3 linked regions of the Homo sapiens genome follow. The protein of the gene in region 3 interacts with the protein of the main gene of each other region in a biochemical or structural test. Each region holds a gene or a part of one and is shown on either strand. Other genes may lie near its edges.

The links.
Region 1: the proteins of RAD54B (region 3) and RAD51 form a complex in vitro, tested with the Homo sapiens proteins (2 studies listed by BioGRID).
Region 2: the proteins of RAD54B (region 3) and DMC1 form a complex in vitro, tested with the Homo sapiens proteins (one study listed by BioGRID).

Annotation. Positions count from the first base shown.
Region 1 is NC_000015.10:40,698,134-40,705,243, forward strand, and holds part of RAD51 (DNA repair protein RAD51 homolog 1), read left to right. Parts: intron 1-623; coding exon of another isoform or gene 624-625; coding exon 626-712; intron 713-2,930; coding exon 2,931-3,068; intron 3,069-3,672; coding exon of another isoform or gene 3,673-3,793; intron 3,794-7,110.
Region 2 is NC_000022.11:38,532,160-38,539,269, forward strand, and holds part of DMC1 (meiotic recombination protein DMC1/LIM15 homolog), read right to left. Parts: intron 6,454-7,110; coding exon 6,380-6,453; intron 6,251-6,379; coding exon 6,136-6,250; intron 5,494-6,135; coding exon 5,433-5,493; intron 1-5,432. UniProt on the Homo sapiens protein: Participates in meiotic recombination, specifically in homologous strand assimilation, which is required for the resolution of meiotic double-strand breaks.
Region 3 is NC_000008.11:94,472,100-94,479,621, forward strand, and holds the start of RAD54B (DNA repair and recombination protein RAD54B), read right to left. Parts: upstream 3,017-7,522; 5' UTR 2,902-3,016; intron 1-2,901. UniProt on the Homo sapiens protein: Involved in DNA repair and mitotic recombination. May play an active role in recombination processes in concert with other members of the RAD52 epistasis group.

The sequences.
Region 1 (7,110 bases), on a different chromosome or scaffold from region 3:
CCTCAGTCTCTGGTTACCACTGTTCTATTTGTTCCTTGTATGAGATGAACTTTTTTTTTTTTGTTTTTTTTTTTGAGACACAGTCTCACTCTGTCATGAGGCTGGAGTACAGTGGCACGATCTCGGCTCACTGCGATCTCTGTCTTCCGGGTTGAAGCCATTTACCTGCCTCAGCCTCCCGAGTAGCTGGGACTACAGGCGTGTGCCACCACACCCTGCTAATATTTGTATTTTTAGTAGGGACGGGGTTTCGCATGTTGGCCGGGATGGTCTTGATCTCCTGACCTGGTGATCTGCCCGCCTCGGCCTCCCAAAGTGCTGGGATCACAGGCATGAGCCACCGCGCCCCGCCAAGATCAACTTTTTTAGATTCTACATATGAGTGAGATCATGCAGTATTTGTCTGCAAACACATTTATAATGTATAATGGGGTATATAAAAATAAGTAAAACTTGGCCCCTACACTGAAGGAATATAAAGCAGGAGAACAGAGAGGCACAATAAGAGAATGGCCTTGGCTTTTCCTAAAGTCTTTTTGATACGACTAGCTAGATAGAAGATGGGGAGAGAGATGCACCTTATTTCTCTAGTGTTTATACTGATAAGCATTTGTATTTTTCAGTAATGGCAATGCAGATGCAGCTTGAAGCAAATGCAGATACTTCAGTGGAAGAAGAAAGCTTTGGCCCACAACCCATTTCACGGTTAGAGGTATGTGGTTAGTTGCTAATTTTGGAATTATATACTAGATTCTTCTACCTAGTGGAAGGTATTACAACCTTTACATAAAATATAGGTTTACTACCAAGGTCAAGACCCAAATTAGACTTTTCAGAAGTGTTGTCAATAATCCTGTGGAAAGGCTGCAGATCATTGCTAAATATGTCTGGCAGGGCCTCTTCCTTTGTCAACAATTCTCTTCCTACTTTATCATTTTTATTTCTGAGAGTTGGACTGTCAGAAACTAAGGCCTAGGATCCCATGGTGGAATCTCTGTGCTGTTTTTGTTTGTTTGTTTGTTTGTTTTTGATGGAGTTTCGCTCTTGTTGCCCAGGCTGGAGTGCAATGGCGTGATCTCGGCTCACCGCAACCTCTGCGTCCCAGGTTCAAGCGATTCTCCTGCCTCAGCCTCCCAAGTAGCTGGAATTACAGGCATGAGCCACCACACCCAGCTAATTTTATATTTTTAGTAGAGACAGGGTTTCTCCATGTTGGTCAGGCTAGTCTCGAACTCCTGACCTCAGGTGATCCACCCTCTTTGGCCTCCCAAAGTGCTGGGATTACAGGCATGGGCCACTGCGCCCAGCCTGTGCTGTTTTTTTGTTTGTTTTTTAAGAAATGGGTCTTAACTGTGTTGACCATGTTGATCTTGAACTCCTGGCCTCAAGCAGTCCACCTGCCTTGGCGTCCCAAACTGCTAGGATTACAGGCATGAGCCACCATGCCTGGCCAAAGCATCCTGTGCTATTTGCACTAAGTATGAAAGTGCTGTTCTGGGAATTATAGCGGCCTGGACCAGTTATGCAAGGAAGACAGGGAAGCACCTTCTCTCCATTAACCTAGATTTGTGCTGTCAGCTGTCATTGGCAGAGAGAAGGGTGTGGTGGTGTTATGGTATAAGAGACAAGCTCCAATTCAGGATTCTGCACAAGAACATTAAGCACCAGAGCTGAGGCCTTACACTATTTCTGCCCATTGTATAGAGACTGCCCTGTGAGTGCAGCTGATTTGGGCTAAGTAGGAGGAAAGCAGAGAAAGACTTGATTCTTCTGTCTCTTTTTTTCATATTTCCCATCTCTGACTAATCTTCAAGACTCTAGAAGTTAGGAGTGCAAAAGGCTAATAAAAAAAAAAGACTCTAGAAGTTACTTAAATGGATTTGTGATAAACATTTGAAAGTTCAGAGTCATAACTTCTGGTGCCATGAGCATCCTTATACTCAAACATGCATATTGCTTAAATATTAATAGCAGACATGGCTTATGTTGGCAAACTAATCTCTCCCCTCTTCTAAATTCTCCCAACCCCTGAATGCACCCACATTCACCTACTAACTCATGTTTTCCCAGAAGTCATGGTTTTGGTGGCTAATGAAACCAAAGCTGACTTGAATATAGGAAGAAAGAGGTGTCTTTGGGTGGTTTGTTTTGAGAAGAGGTATAAAAGTCCCTGACAAAAAGTAGTTTTCCTCACTGTTAATGTCAGTTGTTAGAGCAGAGCTTTCTGGTCATTGTTCAACAAAAAGTATTGACAGGCCAAGATAGTGCTCTTTATATTCTGAGCAGCCTTATCTATTTACCCTACCATAGTGTAAAAATACAGTTTTTTATGTGTGCTTGATGTGGAAAGTGTTGAGCAACACTGTCTTAAAGTGGTCTTGTAGGGCCCAAGGTCTCAGAGATCATTTAGGGTCACAAAAAAAGGTTGGGAGTTACTTTTTAATTCCAATTGCTAATAGGAGTTCTTTTTAATGTACATGGCTTAGTGCTAGTTTAAAATTATTGATTTTGATAATGAAAAGGTTGTTAATTTGTTATTAAGTACCTCATATATAGGGCTCATTTTTCAGCTTTTGCATATAATAACAGTAGGCTCTCTGTATCTCCGGATTCTGTATCAGCAAATTCAACAAACTACGTATCAAAAATTCAATCAACTACATATCAAAAAAAAGTATACAGGAGGATGTACATAGGTTATATGCAGGTAATACGCCATTTTATATAAGGGACTTGAGCATTGTTGGATTTTGTTATCTGCTGGGGGTCCTGGAACCAACTTCCCATCTCCCCCCGCCCCCCCAAGGATTTCAAGGGACAGTTGTATTACAAGTCTTCAAGCACCTCTGTGAAGTATGTAGGACACATAACATCTGTGTTAGATTAGAGAACTAAAGCTTAAATTTATCCATGGTTTTCTTCATTTGCAGCAGTGTGGCATAAATGCCAACGATGTGAAGAAATTGGAAGAAGCTGGATTCCATACTGTGGAGGCTGTTGCCTATGCGCCAAAGAAGGAGCTAATAAATATTAAGGGAATTAGTGAAGCCAAAGCTGATAAAATTCTGGTAAGTACTGCTTACTTAACCTAGGGAGGCATTAGTGGGAATAGTACAAAAGGGAATGTAGTGAAAGACTTCTTCCTTCTATCTCTTATTCTTCGGTCATCTCATTATCCTTTCCAGGGGTGACTGTTACCTGTTTCTTTTCTTCTTTTCTTTTCTTTTCTTTTTTTTTTCTTTCTTTTTTTTTTTTTTTGGAGACGGGTTCTCGCTCTGTCACACAGGGTGGAGTGCAGTGGTGCCATCTCAGCTCACTGCAACCTTCACCTCCCAAGCTCAAGCGATCCTCTCACCTCAGCCTCCCAAGTAGCTGGGACTACACTACAGGCACATGCCACCATGCCGGGGTAGTCTCGAACTCCTGAGCTCAGGCGATTCACCTACCTCAGCCTCCCAAAGTGCTGGATTATAGGTGTGAGCTACTGTGCCTGGCCTATTTATTTTTCTAGCTTCATATAGTTCTTTAACATACATACTTCCCCATGGTTACATTTTGTTTTATGAACCTATTTCTTCAGTGTTTATATAGTTACACAGTTTTATTGCCTTTACCCTTGAAGTTTTATGTAGTATAAAGCAGATTTTTTTTTTTTTTTTTTTTTTTTTTGAGACGGAGTCTCGCTCTGTTGCCAGGCTGGAGTGCAATAGCGTGATCTTGGTCTACTGCACCCTCCGCCTCTCAGGTTCAAGTGATTCTCCTGCCTCAGCCTCCCGAGTAGTTGGGACTACAGGTATGTGCCACCACACCCAGCTAATTTTTGTATTTTTATTAGAGACAGGGTTTCACCACGTTGGCCAGGATGGTCTCGATCTCCTGACCTTGTGATCTGCCCACCTCAGCCTCCTAAAGTGCTGGGATTACAGGTGTGAGCCACCGCGCCCCACCGCAAATATTTATTTATAAAATTGTATTTTCACGTATCGATTACTGTTAGCGTTAGATAAATTTATTGGATTACTCAAATGAATATTTGCTGAAGTGGTTGCTTAATTGGAAATAAGGGTTCTGAGTCCCTAACAGTATTTTTGTTAAAAGATTGTCATATTGACTAAGCCAGTAGGGGTCCCTAAAGTCTTTCTGTTTTCGCTTTTTGGGTATCAGTTTTTGTGAATGAACAAATGCTGACAGGATCTTTTCTTTTTGCCTTGCGAGATCTTGGTTTCAGAAATCAAGTCACTTCTCTGTTTCTATGAACACAACAATGCAAACCTAGAATACATGATTTGAGATGCAATATGGTATAGACTTACGTGTCTTTACTTTTCAATATTTTATGTTCTTTGTTTCTGGCCAGTAAAGATTATGATTGTATTGTTTGTTTTCTGTTTTTTTTTGAGGCAGAGTGTCGCTGTGTCACCCAGGCTGGAGCACAATGGTGCAATTTTGGCTCTGCTCACTGCAACCTCTGCCTTCCGGGTTCAAGTGATTGTCGTGCCTCAGCCTCCCAAGTAGCTGGGATTACAGGCTCCCACCACCACACGTGGCTAATTTTTGTATTTTCAGTTGAGACGGGGTTTCACCATGTTGCCCAGGCTGGTCTCAAACTCCTGGCCTCAAGCAATCTGCCCACCTCAGCCTCCCAAAGTGCTGAAATTACAGGCACTAGCCACTGTGCCCACCTTTTTTTTTTTTTTTTAAAGAAAAAAAAGAAAAGTCTCACTCTGTTGCCCAGGCTGGAGTGCAGTGGCATGATCAAAGCTCACTGCAGCTTCAGCTTCAAACTCCTGGGCTCAAGGAATTCTCAGCCTGCTGAGTAGCTGGGACTATAGGCACATGCCACTAGCCTGACCATTTCTACCAGTTTTGTCTTTGCTAATACATTCTCCTGTTTTTCACCAAAGGAAGTAGTCTATATTCCTTGAGCTCCCATGGCTTGTTAGTACTTCTCATATTACCCATCACATCTACTTGTACTATAGTTATTTTGTATAGTTTATCTTTCTGATTAAGTTATAAGCTCTGTGGAGGCAGGAATCAGCTCTTCTTTTTCTCCATATCCTTCAGAGTCCCTGGGACTATGTTTCATACGAAGTAAGTGTCTAGTACATGTTTGTTGCACTGAAATGACAGTGAGTATATGAATTGGCCAGGCTGGTCTCAAAATCCTGGCCTCAGGTAATCCGCCCATCTCAGTATCCCAAAGTGCTGGGATTACAGGCGTGAGCCACTGCACCTGGCCGTGCAATGAATTTTTAAATGAAATATTAAGTATATAGAAAAGTTTAGAGAATAAACTTTCATTGATTTTTCAGCTATTTGTTGATTTTTTTTCTTCATGGGAAATTTAAACATTATGAAAGTTTAATCTTTTTACTTTCTATGGGTCTATTTAGATTTTCTTCTTGAGTGAGTTTTGGTAGTTTATCTTTCTAAGAATTTGCTTATTTCATCTAAGTTACCTAACTTGTTGACATAGAGATGCTCACAGGGTTTCCTTATACTACTTTTTATTTACATAAAGTCAGTAGTAATGTCCCCTCTTTCATTCTTGATTTTAGTAATTTGAGTCTTTTCTCTTTTTTTCTCGGGCAATGCAGCTAAAAGTTTGTCAATTTTGTTGATATTTTCAAAGAACCAGCTTTTGGTTTCATTGATTTTTCTCTATTATTCTGCCCTCTACTTAATAGTTTCTACCCTAACCTGTATTATTTCCATCTTTCTGCTTGCTTTGTTTTGTTTGCTTTTCTTTGGAAGGTTAGGTTATGATTTATCTTTTTTATTTTTAGAGGCAGAGTCTTGTTCTGTCACTTACGTTGGAGTGCAGTGGTGTGATCATAGCTCACTGCAGCCTCCAACTCCTGGCTCAAACAAACCTTCTGCCTCAGCCTCCCAGGTAACTAGGACCACAGGCACGCCCCACCATGCCCTGCTATTTATTTTATTTTATTTTATTTTTGAGACGGAGTCTCCCTCTGTGCCCAGGCTGGAGTGCAGTGGCGTGATCTCTGCTCACTGCAACCTCTGCCTCTTGGGTTCAAGCGATTCTCCTGCCTCAGCCTCCTGAGTGGCTGGGATTACAGGCACGTGCCGCCATGCCCAGCTAATTTTTAGTAGAGACAGGGTTTCACCGTGTTAGCCAGGATGGTCTTGATCTCCTGACCTCATGATCTGCCTGCCTCAGCCTCCCAAAGTGCTGGGATTACAGTCGTGAGCCACCGCGCCAGGCCTTTTTTTTTTTTTTTTCTGATGCAGTCTCACTCTCTTGCCCAGGCTGGAGTGCGGTGGTGTGATCTCGGCTCACTGCAACCTCCGCCGCCCGGGTTCAAGCAGTTCTCCTGTTTCAGCCTCCTGAGTAGTTGGGACTACAGGCGCACGCCACCACGCCCAGCTATTTTTTGTATTTTTAGTAGAAATGGGGTTTCACCATATTGGGCAGGCTGGTCTTGAACTCCTGACTTCGTGATCTGCCCACCTCACCCTACCAAAGTGCTGGGATTCAGGCATGAGCCACCATGCCCAGCCATGCCCTACTAATTTTTTTTTTTTTTTTTGAGATGGAATCTCGCTGTGTCTCTCAGGCTGGAGTGCAGTGGTGCAAATTCAGCTCACTGCAACCTCCGCCTCCCAGATTCAAGTGATTCTTCCACCTCAGCCTCCCGAGTAGCTGGGACTACAGGCGCGTGCCACCACGCCCGGCTAATTTTTGTATTTTTAGTAGAGAGGAAGTTTCACCATGTTGGTCAGGCTGGTCTTGAACTCCTGACCTTGTGATCTGCCCACCTCAGCCTCCCAAAGTTCTGAGATTACAGAGGTGAGCCACCACACCCAGCCACCCTGCTAATTTTAAAACATTTTTAGAGCCAGGGTGCTGCTTTGTTACTCAGGCTGGTCTCAAACTCCTGGCTTCCAGCAGTCCTCCCACCTCAGCCTCCCAAAGTGCTGGGATTACAGGTGTGATTCACCACACCCAGCCTTCTTTTCTAATATAGCTGTTTATAGCTATGAATTTCTCTCTAAGCACTGCTTTTCTTGGAGCCCATACGTTTTGGTATATCTTCGTTTTCATTCATTGCAAAAACATTTTCTGATTTCCCTTGTCATTTCTTC
Region 2 (7,110 bases), on a different chromosome or scaffold from region 3:
AAAATTATTCTCTTTGTGAAGCACTTCATGTCCTGTGTATGAAAGTCATCCCATAAAACAGAGATGATTGCCTTAACCACTCAGCGACTATACTATAGACAATGTGTGACTTACCAAGACTAAAATTTTGAGTTGAATGGACATCATTTATTGTCTTTCTTTTTTTTTTTTTTTCTTTTTTGAGACAGAGTCTCACTCTGTCACCCAGGCTGGAGTGCAGGGGTGTGATCTCGGCTCACTGCAACCTCCCCTCCCGGGTTCAAACGATTCTTCTGCCTCAGCCTCCCAAGTAGCTGGGATTACAGGCACGCGCATTTACGCCCGGCTAATTTTTATATTTTTAGTAGAGACAGGGTTTCACCATGTTGGCCAGCCTGGTCTCGATCTCCTGACCTCGTGATCCACTGACCTTGGTCTCCCAAAGTGCTGGATTACAGGAGTGAGCCACCACACCCGTTCACAAGACTTTTTTTTTTTTGAGACAGGTTCTCACTCTCTTGCCCAGGCTGGAGTGCAGTGGTGCAAACATGGCTCACTGCAGCCTTGACCTCCCAGGCTCAAGCAATCCTCCTGCCTCAGCCTCCCAAGTAGTTAGGACTACAGGCATGTGCCACCATGCTTGGCTAATTTTTAATTTTTTTTAGAGACGAGGTCTGTCTATGTGACTTAGGCTCCTGGGCTCAAGCGATCCTCCTGCCTCGGCCTCCCAAAGTGCTGGGATTACAGGCGTGAGCCACCGTGCTTGGCCGAGGCCAGGATTTTTGTCTTTTTTGTTCACTAGTGAATTCTCAGAATATTGTTACATAGTAGATTTTCAATAAATATTCATTGAGTGAATAAATGATTTCCCCTGCTCAATCTTTTTAACTTGCTTAATAACATTTGAGTAGTTAATATTTTTCACAGGAATCTCTTGTAACTAAGTAGAAAATACTTATAAAAGGGTCTTGAGGCCAGACGCGGTGGCTCATGCCTGTAATCCCAGCACTTTGGGAGGCTGAGGCAGATGGATCACGAGGTCAGGAGATCGAGACCATCCTGGCTAACACGGTGAAACCCCGTCTCTACTAAAACACAAAAACAAAATTAGCCGGGTGTGGTGGCGGGCGCCTATAGTCCCAAGCTACTAGGGAGGCCGAGGTGACAGAATGGCATCAACCTGGGAGGCGGAGCTTGCAGTGAGCCGAGATCGCGCCATTGCACTTCAGCCTGAGTGACAGAGCGAGACTCCATCACAAAAAAAAAAAAAAAAAAAAAGAGTCTTGAAAAGTGAGAGATAGATATCAAACTGCGAAAGATGAAGCAAAATTGTTAAGGGTAAATTTGGAAAATGCTTAAAGAGAGACACATTCATTTCAATGTAATTTACAGAATTTACTCCAGCATATCAAATATCTTTTAATATATCTGTCAATGATACATTTAATCTGCTACCATATGATGCATTGCTTCTGTTTTAAAGTAATAGCACTTTGTATTGCAACCATCAGAGTAATAATTAATTTACTCTAATTAATTTAGGCAAGAATCTTCAATGGATGCTAATATAAATGCATGAAAGCTTATTGCAGAGCAAGATATTTACACAGTCTCAAATTATCACACCACAAATTACTAATTAAATATAAAAGAGAATTTTTGTAATTTTCTTTTACAATGGAGACATCATGTGAATATCATCTTAATCATATGATCAGAATTAACATCACTAATAATGGGACAAACTGCCATCATGTGCCTCCTGATATGATATACTGAGAAGGCCATAATATTGCTTATGTAGTTTTCCTGTCAAAATGCTTAACATTTTAAGTAATGAAGAAAAAATTCAACTTCAAATTGAGGGACATTGCAAAACAGTTGGTCTGTGTTCTACAAAAATGTCGGTGTCATAAAAGTCTAACAAAGGTTGAAGAGCTGTTCTGATTAAAGGAGACTAAAGAGACATGACAATTACACGCAGTGCATGTTCTTCAATTGATCCTGAATTGAATGCAAAACAAAAAAACCCCCAACAACTATAAAGGACATTATTGGGGCAACTGGAGACACTTGAATACAACTGTATATTAGATAACATTATTATGCCAATGTTAGAATTTCTGAATGTGATAATTATATTGTGGCTATGTAGAAGAACATCATTATTCTTAGAAGAGATATGCTGAAGTATTAAGAGGTGAAGTGTCATGATGTCTGTGAATAATTTTCAGTGGTTCAGAAGAAACTTCTCAAATGGTTCACCAAAAAATACATATACAGGCTGGGCGTAGTGGCTCACACCTGTAATCCCAGCACTTTGGGAGGCTGAGGTGGGCGAATCACCTGAGGTCAGGAGTTCGAGACCAGCCTGGCCAACATGAAGAAACCCCGTCTCTACTAAAAATACAAAAATTAGCCGGCCATGGTGGCAGGCGCCTGTAATCCCAGCTACTCGGGAGGCTGAGGCAGGAGAATTGCTTGAACCCAGGAGGCAGAGGTTGCAGTGAGCTGAGATGGTGCTGCTGCACTCCAGCCTGAGTGACAGAGCAAGACTCTGTCTCAAAAAACAAACAAACACGACTGAGTGCGGTGGGTCATGCCTGTAATCCCAGGACTTTGGGAGGCCAAGGTGGGTGGAACACCTGAGGTCGGGAGTTCGAGACCAGCCTGGCCAACGTGGTGAAACCCTGTCTCTACTAAAAATACAAAAAAAATTAGCCAGGGGTGGTTGGCAGGTGCCTGTAATCCTAGCTACTCGGGAGGCTGAGGCAGGAGAATTGCTTGAACCCAGGAGGTGGAGGTTGCAGTGAGCTGAGATCGCACCATTGCACTCCAGCCTGGGAAACAAGAGTGAAACTCCATCTAAAAAAAAAAGAGGCTGGGCACAGTGGCTTATGCCTGTAATCCCAGCACTTTGGGAGGCCGGGGCAGGTGGATCGTGAGGTCAAGAGATAGAAACCATCCTGGCTAACACGGTGAAACCCCGTCTCTACTAAAAATACAAAAAATTAGCCGGGTGTGGTGGTAGGTGCCTGTAATTCCAGCTACTCAGGAGGCTGAGGCAGGAGAATCGCCTGAACCTGGGAGGCGGAGACTGCAGTGAGCTGGGATCGTGCCACTGCACTCTAGCCTGGGTGACAGAGCGAGACTCCGTCTCAAAAAAAAAAAAAGAAAAAGAAAAACAAACAAAAAACCGTATACACATACCACATACATATACATATGAGAATGTGTGTATGTGTGGAGAAACAAAGGTGTATGTACACCTCCACACACACACACACACACACACACACATACAGGAGAGAGAAAAAATGTGGCAAATTTAACAACTGATGAACCTAGATAAATGAGTATGTCTTGCTCTGTCTCCCAGGCTGAAATGCAGTGGCATGAATTCATTGCACTAGTTTTTTAACTTCTCTCTGGTAAAAATATTTTCTAAATAAAAACCTTTAAAAAAATCTTTTTTTTTTTTGTTTTTGAGACGGAGTCTTGTTCTGTCACCCAGGCTGGAGTGCAGTGGCACGATCTTGGCTCACTTCAACCTCTGCCTCCCAGGTTCAAGTGATCCTCCTGTCTTAGCCTCCCAAGAAGCTAGGACTACAGGTGCACACCACCATGCCTGGCTAGTTTTTTTATTTTTAGTAAAGACAGGGTTTTGCCATGTTGTCCAGGCTGGTCTTGAACTCCTGACCTCAGGTGATCCTCCCACCTCGGCCTCCCAAAGTGCTGAGATTACAGTGAGCCACTGCCCACTGCACCCAGCCTTTAAAAGATTTTTTTAAAAGCTTTTTGGCTAGGCAAGGGGGCTCACACATGTAATCCTAGCACTTTGGGATGCTGAGGTGGGAGGATCGCTTGAGGCCAGGAGTTCGAGACCAGCCTGGCCAACATGGCAAAACCCTGTCTCTTCTAAAAATAAAAAAATTAGCCAGGCGTGGCGATGTGTGCCTCCCAGCTGCTCGGGAGGCTGAGGCTGGAGCATCACCTGAGCCTGAGAGGCAGAGGTTGCAGTGAGCAGAGATGGTGCCACTGCATTGCAGCTTGGGTGACAGAGTGAAACCTTGTCTCTTAAAAAAAAAAAACACACACACACTTTAAAAAAGCATTATCATGAATTTAGATTTGTTTTGCTTTGTTTGAGACAGTCTTGCTCTGTCTCCCAGGCTGGAGTGCAGTGGTGTGTATTTAGGATTATTTTGATTGCTTATTCAGACACATAATGCTCAAAATTTGTTACGGTGGCAACAAACCTTTGTTTGATTTATCTATTTTTATTATCCTACTTTAGCTCTCTGTGTGTTTCTATTCACTGCCGTCTTTCAGAGTCATCAATAGTTATGTGCACAAACACTTCAACAAATTCTGAATATGCCTAGTGTGAACTGAAATTCTTTTTCTTCAAACAGGAGACTTCTCCCATAGTGCCTCTGATAAATATATCTCATGTATATCCTGTAGAAAGATGACTTTTTTGTTTTTATGAATGGTGTTTATTATACTGATAAGCTGCAATATAAGTTTTTATTTCCCTAGGATCTATTTCTTATTGTCCTCCCATACCCCTTTAGCCCTAGACCAAAGAGAAGCCCAAAGTACTGCTGAAAATGGTTAAAGTATTGCTTTATTCTATAAAGAACTAGAGAAAAATAGATTCTGGTTACCAAGTGATATTTACAATTATGAAGTCATATACACTGTGCAATAAAGTGATTTTTTTTTTGAGATGCAGTTTTGCTCTTGTTGCACAAGCTGGAGTGCAATGGCATGATCTTGGCTCACTGCAACCTCCGCCTCCCAGGTTCAAGTGATTCTCCCACCTCAGCCTCCCGAATAGCTGGGATTACAGGTGCACGCCACCACGCCCAGCTAATTTTTTGTATTTTTAGTAGAGACGAGGCTTCATCATGTTGGCCAGGCTGGTCTTGAACTCCTGACCTCAGGTGATCCAACCATCTAGGCCTCCCAAAGTGTTGGGATTACAGGCATGAGCCACTGCGCCCAGTAATAAAGTGATTTGTGATATATTTGTGCCCACATAAAGACTAATGATTTTTAAATTCTTTTCTTTTTTCTTTTTTCTTTTTGAGATAGAATCTTGCTCTGTTTCCCAGACAGGAGTACAATGGCGCGATCTCGGCTTACTACAACCTCCACCTCCCAGGTTCAAGTGATTCTTCTGCCTCAGCCTCCGGAGTAGCTGAGATTACAGGTGTGCGCCACCACACCCGGCTAATCTCTGTATTTTTAGTAGAGACGGGGTTTCACTATGTTAGTCAGGCTGGTCTCCATCTCCTGACCTCGTGATCCGCCTGCCTCAGCCTGCTAAAGTGCTGGAATTACAGGCGTGAGCCACCGTGCCCGGCCTTGAAATTATTTTCTATTCTACGCTCTAACCCTCTTTATATTAACCTCTGTGAAATAAAAAGTAGAATATTGGGGCTTACGTCATAGTTGCTCCTGGATCGGCAGTCATTTGATTGGTCACAAAAACAGCCACGTTATATTCTGCATCAAGAGATAAAATTTTAAAACTATGAGAAAGGCAATATAGATATTTAAAAGTTCATTGTTTAGATTTCAGAGTTTAGACATATTGCATCATGAATTTATTTTATAAATAACATCATATTCCTATTTTTCATTGACAACAGAAATTATTTGTTATTATTATTATTAAGGTTAGAATAAATATTTTTGGTTTAAAAAGAGTTGTAAAGCCGGGCTCAGCGGCTCATGCCTGTAATCCCAGCACTTTGGGAGGCTGAGGCGGACAGATCACGAGGTCAGGAGCTCGAGACCAGCCTGGCCAACATGGTGAAACCCCGTCTCTACTAAATATACAAAAAATTGGCCTGGTGTGATGGCAGGTGCCTGTAATTCCAGCTACTCAGGAGGCTAAGGAGGAAGAATTGCTTGAACCTGGGAGGCGGAGGTTGCAGTGAGCCGAGATCGCACCACTGCACTCCAGCCTGGGCAACAGAGCGAGATACCATCTCAAAAAACAAAAAAAAAACAAAGAGTTGTATTCTCATAAAGGTAATTTTATTTAAAAAAAAATCGCTGCCTCCTGACATTATATTCCAAGCTTCTCTGCAAAGTATACTTGACAAACATAGTCACAGATGCCATTTTATTTTAAAGATATACCTTCTGAGATTTTTTGGAGTCGTGACAACATCTGGGCCAATTTTTGCTGCCGTTCGGCCAACTCCCCACGGCCACTGAAATCCACTCGAAAAAGTGCCATTATTGAATCGATAATCTACACAGGATTAATGTAAAAATAAACATGCATTTGGAAATTGAAGGAAGACGTTATTTGAATAGAGATCAATAGAAGAAAAATATTATGCTAAATAGCTCTGTGAAAGCAATATTTAAAAGCTTGTACCAATAGCTTGAAGATGCCAGCTTCTTCATGGAACTTTGCTGCTACATAATCAAGTAGCTCCATCTGATGTTCACCTGATGGGAAATGCAGTGAGAAAATGTTATAAAAGTTGAAAGAAGCAGAGGCTAAGATCATTCATATTCTTGGGAGCCAGGCAAAATAAATTCCTTGAAGGATTTTCTTAATTATTGATGACTTTATTAAATATTATTGCAGCAGGGCATGGTGGCTCATGCCTATAATCCCAACACTTTGGGAGGCCGAGGCAGGTGGATCACTTGGGGTCAGGAGTTCAAGACCAGCCTTGCCAACATGGTGAAACCCTGACTCTACTAAAAAATACAAAAATTAGCTGGGTGTGGTGGCGTGTGCCTGTAATCCCAGCGACTTGGGAGGCTGAGGTAGGAGAATCACTTGAAGCCAGGAGTTGGAGGTTGCAGTGAGCCGAGATCATACCACTGCACTCCAGCCTGAGTGACAGAGCGAGACTCCATCTCAAAAAAAAAAAAAAATTATTGCATATTCTGCCTTAGCATGTATACCAAATGCTACATTATCCAAAAAGAATGTTACTCTTAATTTCAAAGACAAAGAATAATAAATAATTTGAGGGCACTTTATTATCTAAGGACTTACCAGATGATAAAATTTATAGACTGAGTAAATTAATTTAGAGAAAAATAAAATAGAAAAAAAGTATCAAAATGTTGTATCCCTCAAGTAGTAAATCA
Region 3 (7,522 bases):
TCTCTTCTGTTTCTTATTCAAGGACAAAATAGATCTCTATTAGTATAATCTTTAATCTTAAAGCAAATTATGAAACAGATGGTTTTTGACTGCTTTAGAAGCAGTATTTACCAATACCAGAAGTCAGTACAAATTCTGACCAAACAAGTCATGCCAAAATAACTTCATTAAACTAATTTCCTTTTTATAATGGGTAAGCAGAATACTACAGGCCTCTAAATATATAACTGACACAAGTTTGAAATTGATTAACGGTAACTGTCACAGGACGACATGGATGTTAGGCCTTGCACTTAGACTCAGTTACTTAATGGTCAAATGAAATAGAACAATAGAAGCTGAAATTTAAAACTAAAGATTTTAGTGACTATAGCTCAACTGAAATAAGATAATGAGCCTTCTTAAACTAATAAATTCTAGATAGCATTAATAAAAATATGATGTCCACATCATGAAATGTAATCAGTTCTGTTCTCTACATTAGTCAGACTCCCCTCTAATACTGTGAAAATTCTGACACTTTTTAAAAAGGAACACTTAAAAAATACAGTAGTTAGAAACATCAACAGTAGAAATGAAGGAAACCAGAGTGTAGTTCAGATTCTGCTATTTCAGGGATGCTTAACTTTGGGGAAGCTATTTAACTCTCTAGACACCAATTTTCTCATTTATAAAATAAAGAATGAACTAGATGCTAAAATTTCTTTCAACACTAAATGCGAAGAATTACTACCCTAAATCCTTCTACATCTAATACATGATTTCTGATTTTTCAATCCTCCTATTTTGTAAACTAATAAAAATGATAATGCAAGCATACAACCATCAGCACAGAGCAGTGGTTAAGAAAACAGACTGACTCTGGAGCCAGCCAGGCTGCCTGGCTAGAATCCCAACTCTGCTACTTACATATGACCTTGGGCATCCATCAAGCCATTTAATTTGTTGATACAAAGTAAAATGCAGAAATCAGTACATTTCCCCCCAAAAGACCATTGCACCCTTATAGCTTTTTAAACTGGTTCTGTATGTTCATATTGTCCTGTCCATAATAAATTAATTAATTAATTAGTGCTGTCTGAGCCCTTTCCCCAGGTCCTAGAAATAAAGCCATTTGGTAGCCCTGATGTGATGCTACAACTTCTATAACACCTATTAGTTTCAGTCCTTCCAAGTAAAATGGTAAGGCCAAGCTGACAACTGTAATACACCAGATAGCCACAAGTACTTGGCACTACACTGTGGTAAATAAGAACACAACTTTGAAAGCAAATGCCTGAATATAAATGTGGACTGACACTTTCTAATGGTCTTGCACAGTTTACTTTGGCTCCATGTGTCTCAGTTTCCTCATCTTTAAGAGGGGGTACCATAATCATGCTTACACACCGGACTGTTGGGAGGATTAAATGAAATATGTAAAGCACTTAGAACAAAACTTGACACATAGTAAGCACTCAATGTTATCTGTTATAATTAGTATTATCGGAGAGTAGAAATGATGAAGGTCCTGTGAAGGAGATAGAGAAGGGGTAGTTCAACATACAGGACAATGACCAGAATCTTTGGGTTCGTCTGGGCTTTAAAGAGAGGTATGTGCAACCATCAAACGTCGAGGATGCAAGAATGTAAGTACACCAACTCTACCAAGAACCAGCAACGGTCTCTCCCTGCTGTTGCTGCTTGTCGACTTCCAACTACATTAGGTAGTAATTATTTCACTTCATGCCTTAAATTGCTCCTTTGAGACTCCGGCTATATAGATGGTTCCTAATTTAGGACGGTGTCACTTAGAATTCTTCGACTTTTAAGAAAGCCATGAGCATTCAGTAGAAACTGTACAAGTAACCACACAACCGTCTGTGTTCATGATTTTGCCCAACTGTAGATTAAGGTAAGTGTTCTGAGCATGTTTAAGGTAGGCTAGCGCAGCCATAAAAAGGAATGAAATCATGTCCTTTGCAGCAACATGGGTGCAGCTGGAGGCTATTATCCAAAGCGAATTAAAGCAGAAACAGAAAATCAAATATTGCATGTTCTCACTTATAAATGGGAGCTAAACATTGGGCATTCATGAACATAAAGATGGCAACAATAGACAGTGGAGACAACTAGAAGGGAGAGGAAAGGAGGAGCAAGGGTTCAAAAACTATTGGGTAACATGCTCACTACCTGGGTGACAGGATCAATCGTATCCAAACCTCAGCACCACGTAATATACCGATGCAACAAACCTGCACATGTACCCCCAAATCTAAAATAAACAGCTGAAAATAATTTTTTTGATAACAAAAGTAGGCTAGGCCAAGCTTTAATACTCAGTAGGTTAGCTGTGTTTTAAATCCATTTTCCATTTGGGATATTTTCAACCCCGTAGTAAGTCGAGAAGCATCTGTTCCTACCTAGAAAATCTTCCATAAGGTAATCGATTAAAAGGTTTTAAGGAAATACAAGAAAAACCTGACCAGTGAAGAGGTAAAAGCCCCTAAAGAAGGCGTACCGACACTCTCCAGGACGCTCGCAGAGCCTTCACCCCCTGGCCCTGGGGAAGGAAATTCCCAGTGCAGGAGTGAGGGAGAGACCCAAAAGCCAAGAGGAGCCTGCGCAAAGCGACCGCAGTGGCGGCCCCAGGGGCCACTGCCCAGAACCATCCCTCCCACACAAACGCACAACCCTAAACCCCCACCGCCCGCCCTTCGCTCCAAGGCCCCCGGGGCCAGCAACCAGGGCGTCCCTGGCACTTCAGACCAAAGCTGCAGGCCCGCAGAAGGCCACTTCGGTCGCTCCTGCCGCCTTCCCTCCCTCCTCCCTCGTTGGCCTGCTCCGGCGCCACTCCCTGCTTTGTCCCGCACGAGCCTACAGGCTGTCGCAGCCTCCCGAGCTTCCCCCTGCAGGACGCACCGGCGAAAATCTGACAGAAACCACTGGCCCTGCAAAGAAGTCCTTCTGGTAACCAGCTATCCCCTCGCCGCCGGAGAAGCTCAAGGATCCCGCCTCGGCGAAGCCAATCGCGGACGAGCCCGCCGCGCGTGCGCACTACCTAGCCGCTGCACTGCCCTGTCCTGCCCTACTCTGATTGGACGACCCTACTGCATCACTGCGCATGTATCTTTGCGTTTGGCTTTAAATGCTTCCAAGTTTGATTCAAGTTTACGGTTCAATTAAAAAAATACTGGTTTAGTGCCTACTTTCAGACACAGTGTAGATGCCGAGGCTACAGACCTCACCATCTGCGTGGATAAGTAATAAATACGGTATGATTCGGTGTGTGCGATAATAGAAATGCGTGCATCGCAGAAGTATACGATATCCTATTGGTTATTCATTCATCCGAAAAAACATTGACTTAGCGGTGCCTGCAGGATAATTTTCAAACTCTTTGTTAGGTTCTGGGAATATAGAAACGAATACGTGATTATTAGGCTCTCAGAAAAGGGGAGCCGCCTCCGGACTTGGAAAAGCATTAAAGCATGTTAAGTAGGAAAGTTACATCATTCAATGAGTATTTACTGAGCACCTTCTAAGTGCTAGGCGGTAACACAGTCAACTATCCCTGAAAAATGGTATTAGAAAGGCTAATCTGAAAGGAGAGAGAATGGCTAAAGGTTGTTTATTGAGTTTTATCCAGCAGTTTGACAAAAAGTAAAAGCTAAAAAATATCAAGGGTGAAATGAAGATGTGAAACAATGGGAACTCTTGGGCTGCTGGTAGGAGTGTAAATAGGTACAGCCATTTAAAAGAGTAATTTGAGGCTGAGAGCGGTGGCTTGTGCCTGTAATCCCAGTACTTTGGGAGGCCGAGGCGGGCGGATCACTTGAGGTCAGGAGTTCGAGACCAGCCTGGCCAACATGGTGAAACCCGGTCTGTACTAAAAATACAAAAATTAGCTGGTTTTGGTGGAGCGCGCCTGTAATCCCAGCTACTCAGCAGACTAAGGCGGGAGAATCGCTTGAACCTGGGAGGTGAAGGCTGCAATGAACCGAGATGGTGCCGCAGCACTCCAGCCTGGGCAGCAGAGAGACCCTGTTTCAAAAAAAAAGAGTAATGTGCTTAAGGAGCTTTTATCCTGGGGACTTTTTCCAGTCATAAAGAGCACCTCATAGGTTGAGTTGTGCTTTTGGCAGCTCCTGGAGCCAGCGTTACAAGAATTTGAAATGGGGACCTGCCAAGGTTGGGCACCTTAGTAAACCGCACCCCCCTCTTCTTTGGACTGGGACACATAAAGAGTAAGGGTAACCAGAAAACAAGCTAGCTTCATAGTGTCTGCAGCCTACCTTAATATCATCTGGGGAGTTCAGAAAATCTAAAACAGATTGGCTAAAGGTGACCTGGGACATTCCTCTTGCAGATTTGCATCTGGTTTGATCCTTCACTTCAGATCATTACTCACATATCAACTTGTCAAAGGGCTTTATCTGACAGTGCATTGCTCTCTTGTCTCATCTTGTATCTCCCTTACCCTGCTTTATAGAGTTCATCACACTTTCCATTCCCTAACATATACTTATTTGTTAATTGTTTTTCTATTACTCTCAGAATATAAGCTACATGAGGGCAGGATCTTTGCTTTATTCTCTGCTGTACCCATGTGTTTAGAATAGTACTAGTCTTTTTTGTTTTGTTTTGTTTTTTGAGACGGAGTCTTTCTCTGTCACCCAACTGGAGTGCAGTGGCATGATCTTGGCTCACTGCAACCTCTGCCTCCTGGGTTAAAGCAATTCTTCTGCCTCAGCCTCCCAAGCAGCTGGGACTACAGGCATGCGCCGCCACCAAGCCTGGCTAATTTTTTGTATTTTTGGTAGAGACAGGGTTTCACCATATTGGCCAGGCTGGCCTCGAACTCCTGACCTCGTGATCTGCCCACCTCGGCCTCCCAAAGTGCTGGGATTAAAGGCATGAGCTACAGCACCCAGCCAGAACTGTACTAGTCTTACAGACCGCACTCAATAAATATTTGTTGATATTTATTTGGAGGCCAAGGCAGGAGGATCACTTGAGGCCAGGAGCTTGAGACAAGACCAGCCTGGGCAACATAGTGAGACACTGTCTCTTAAGAAAAGAAAAGAAAAGAAAGAAAGCTGGAAGAAGTGTACACATGAACACTCTGTTCTGTTTTTGCAAGTGTTCTGTAAGTCAAACATTAGTTCAAGTAAAAAGTTTAAAAAGGCCAGGCGTGGTGGCTCACGCCTGTAATCCCAGCACTTTGGGAGGCCAAGGCGGACGGATCACTTGAGGTCAGGAGTTCAAGACTAGCCTGGTGAACGTGGTGAAACACTGTCTCTACTAAAAATACAAAAATTAGTTGAGCATGGTGGTGAGTGCCTGTAATCCCAGCTACTGGGGAGGCTGAGGCAGAAGAATTGCTTGAACCCAGGAGGTGGAGGTTGCAGTGAGCCAAGATCGTGCCATTGCACTCCAGCCTGGGCAAAAGAGCAAGACTCTATCTCAAAAAAAAAAGAAGTTTAAAAAACAAGATTTCTGTTACTCAACAAATACTAAACATGAAGTACCTGGTAATGCAAAGGACACTGTAATGTGTAGTTCAAAAGTACTTTTCTGCAGAAGTGTATAGTCTGATTTTGGATTATCTCTAAAGGAAACTAATAAAATGCAATTTAGGCCTGGGTGTGGTGGCTCATGCCTGTAATGCCAACACTTTGGGAGGCTGAGTGGGGAGAATCGCTTGAGTCTAGGAGTCCAAAACCAGCCTGGGCAACATGAATGAAACCCTGTCTCAAAAGAAAAAAATCAAAGTCTTTGTCCAATTATGTGGATACATATATCTTTGGAAATGAATATATTGGTATTCGTTTCATTTCCTTCTTTAATCATTCAATGCCAAGTATGTCACCCCTAAATATTTTTATAAGGATATTATACTATGCCTTGGGGTTAACAGTAACAAATATTGGAGGTAAAAGTCTCTGTAACTATAATGTTGAATTAACACATTAATTGGTTATTACTTATTGGTAATGTTAGTTAATTGATTAAGCAGCATCAACATTACAGCTGGGGTGGGAGGAGTGGAGAGGAGAAAAATAATTTGGACACCTCCTTTTAGTCTGATTACCCTTCTTTTTCAGTTGTGATCCCACTTGTCTCCTAGCCACTACACTTGATCAATTCTGGACTGTTATTTTTTACTTTAACTCTATAATAAATATCTGTAATACATTTCTCTTTTGATTCATATTCACCTCCCACCACACATATTCCTACTTCTATTTTATGTTTCAGAATATGAGAAAATAACACCCCACTAGTGATTTGTTCATATCACACAGAAGTTAATGAATGGCAAAGGCAGGATTAGTACCTAGCTCTATTCATTACTAATTTCTTACTTTTTCATCGAAGTAAGTTTCGGAGGGAAAATTATTGAACAGTTTTTTAAAGTTTCACATGCTAGCTGGGTGTGCTTATGCGTGCCTGTAATCCCAGCTACTTGGTAGGCTGAGGCAGTAGGACAGCTTGAGCTCAAGACCAGCCTGAGCAACATAGTGAGACTTCACTTCAATTAAAAAAAAATTAATAAGTTTCACATGGTTATAGAACAGTTTTGGATAATATTTATTTTATATGACTTGGGCTTTCAGGTGAATTATTTTTGATTCCTTATTTAGCTTAAAGAGAACAGTGATTCCAGAGGACCCTAACTTGTTCTGGAAGGACCAAGTGAAATGTTTCATCAGAGTAAATAGCAATTCTACCATTCCAGGATTACCAGAACATCTAAAAGCATCCTTCCTAGAGGCAACAACTGAAAGCAGCTGCAGACTTAAAGAGGACCAAAGCTTTACCAAAATATGCCTAAAGTATCTCTTAGCAAACCAAGAGACCTTCAGTGGGGAATACAACACAGTTTGTCAACTCAAATAATTTGTCAAGATTTATTAACTTGAAAAAAAGTTTAAGAATGTTTATTTAACTAATATTTTAGTTTTGTCTATTGCTTTAAAATAAGTCATGTAATTCAGCATTTTTTTTCTAAATGAATACCTCAAAACCTTATTCCATTTTAAACTCAAGAATATGTGGCTGGGCGCAGTGGCTCCCAGCACTTTGGGAGGCCGAGGAGAGTGGATCACCTGAGGTCAGGAGTTCGAGACCAGCCTGGCCAACATGGTGAAACTTCGTCCCTACTAAAAATACAAAAATTAGCCAGGCACGGTGGCGGGCACCTGTAATCCCAGCTACTCAGGAGGCTGAGACAGGATAATTGCTTGAACCCGGGAGGCAGAGGTTGCAGTGAGCCGTGTTGCGCCACTGCACTCCAGCCTGGCGACAGAACATCTCAGATATGAAAGTAGATATAACAACTTAAAACACAATAATCAGAAATGGAATTTCAAAGAAGTCTGTAGTCAAAAGTGTGGAAGCACAAAAAACATAACTAGACTCTGCAGATAACAGTCTAAGGCCACATATCCAAAGTCAATCATTATATGTAAACAGTTGAGGAGCGGATGGCTTTGATACACATAGTTTTTAGCAATCTCTCTTCAGTTCAAATTGAAAA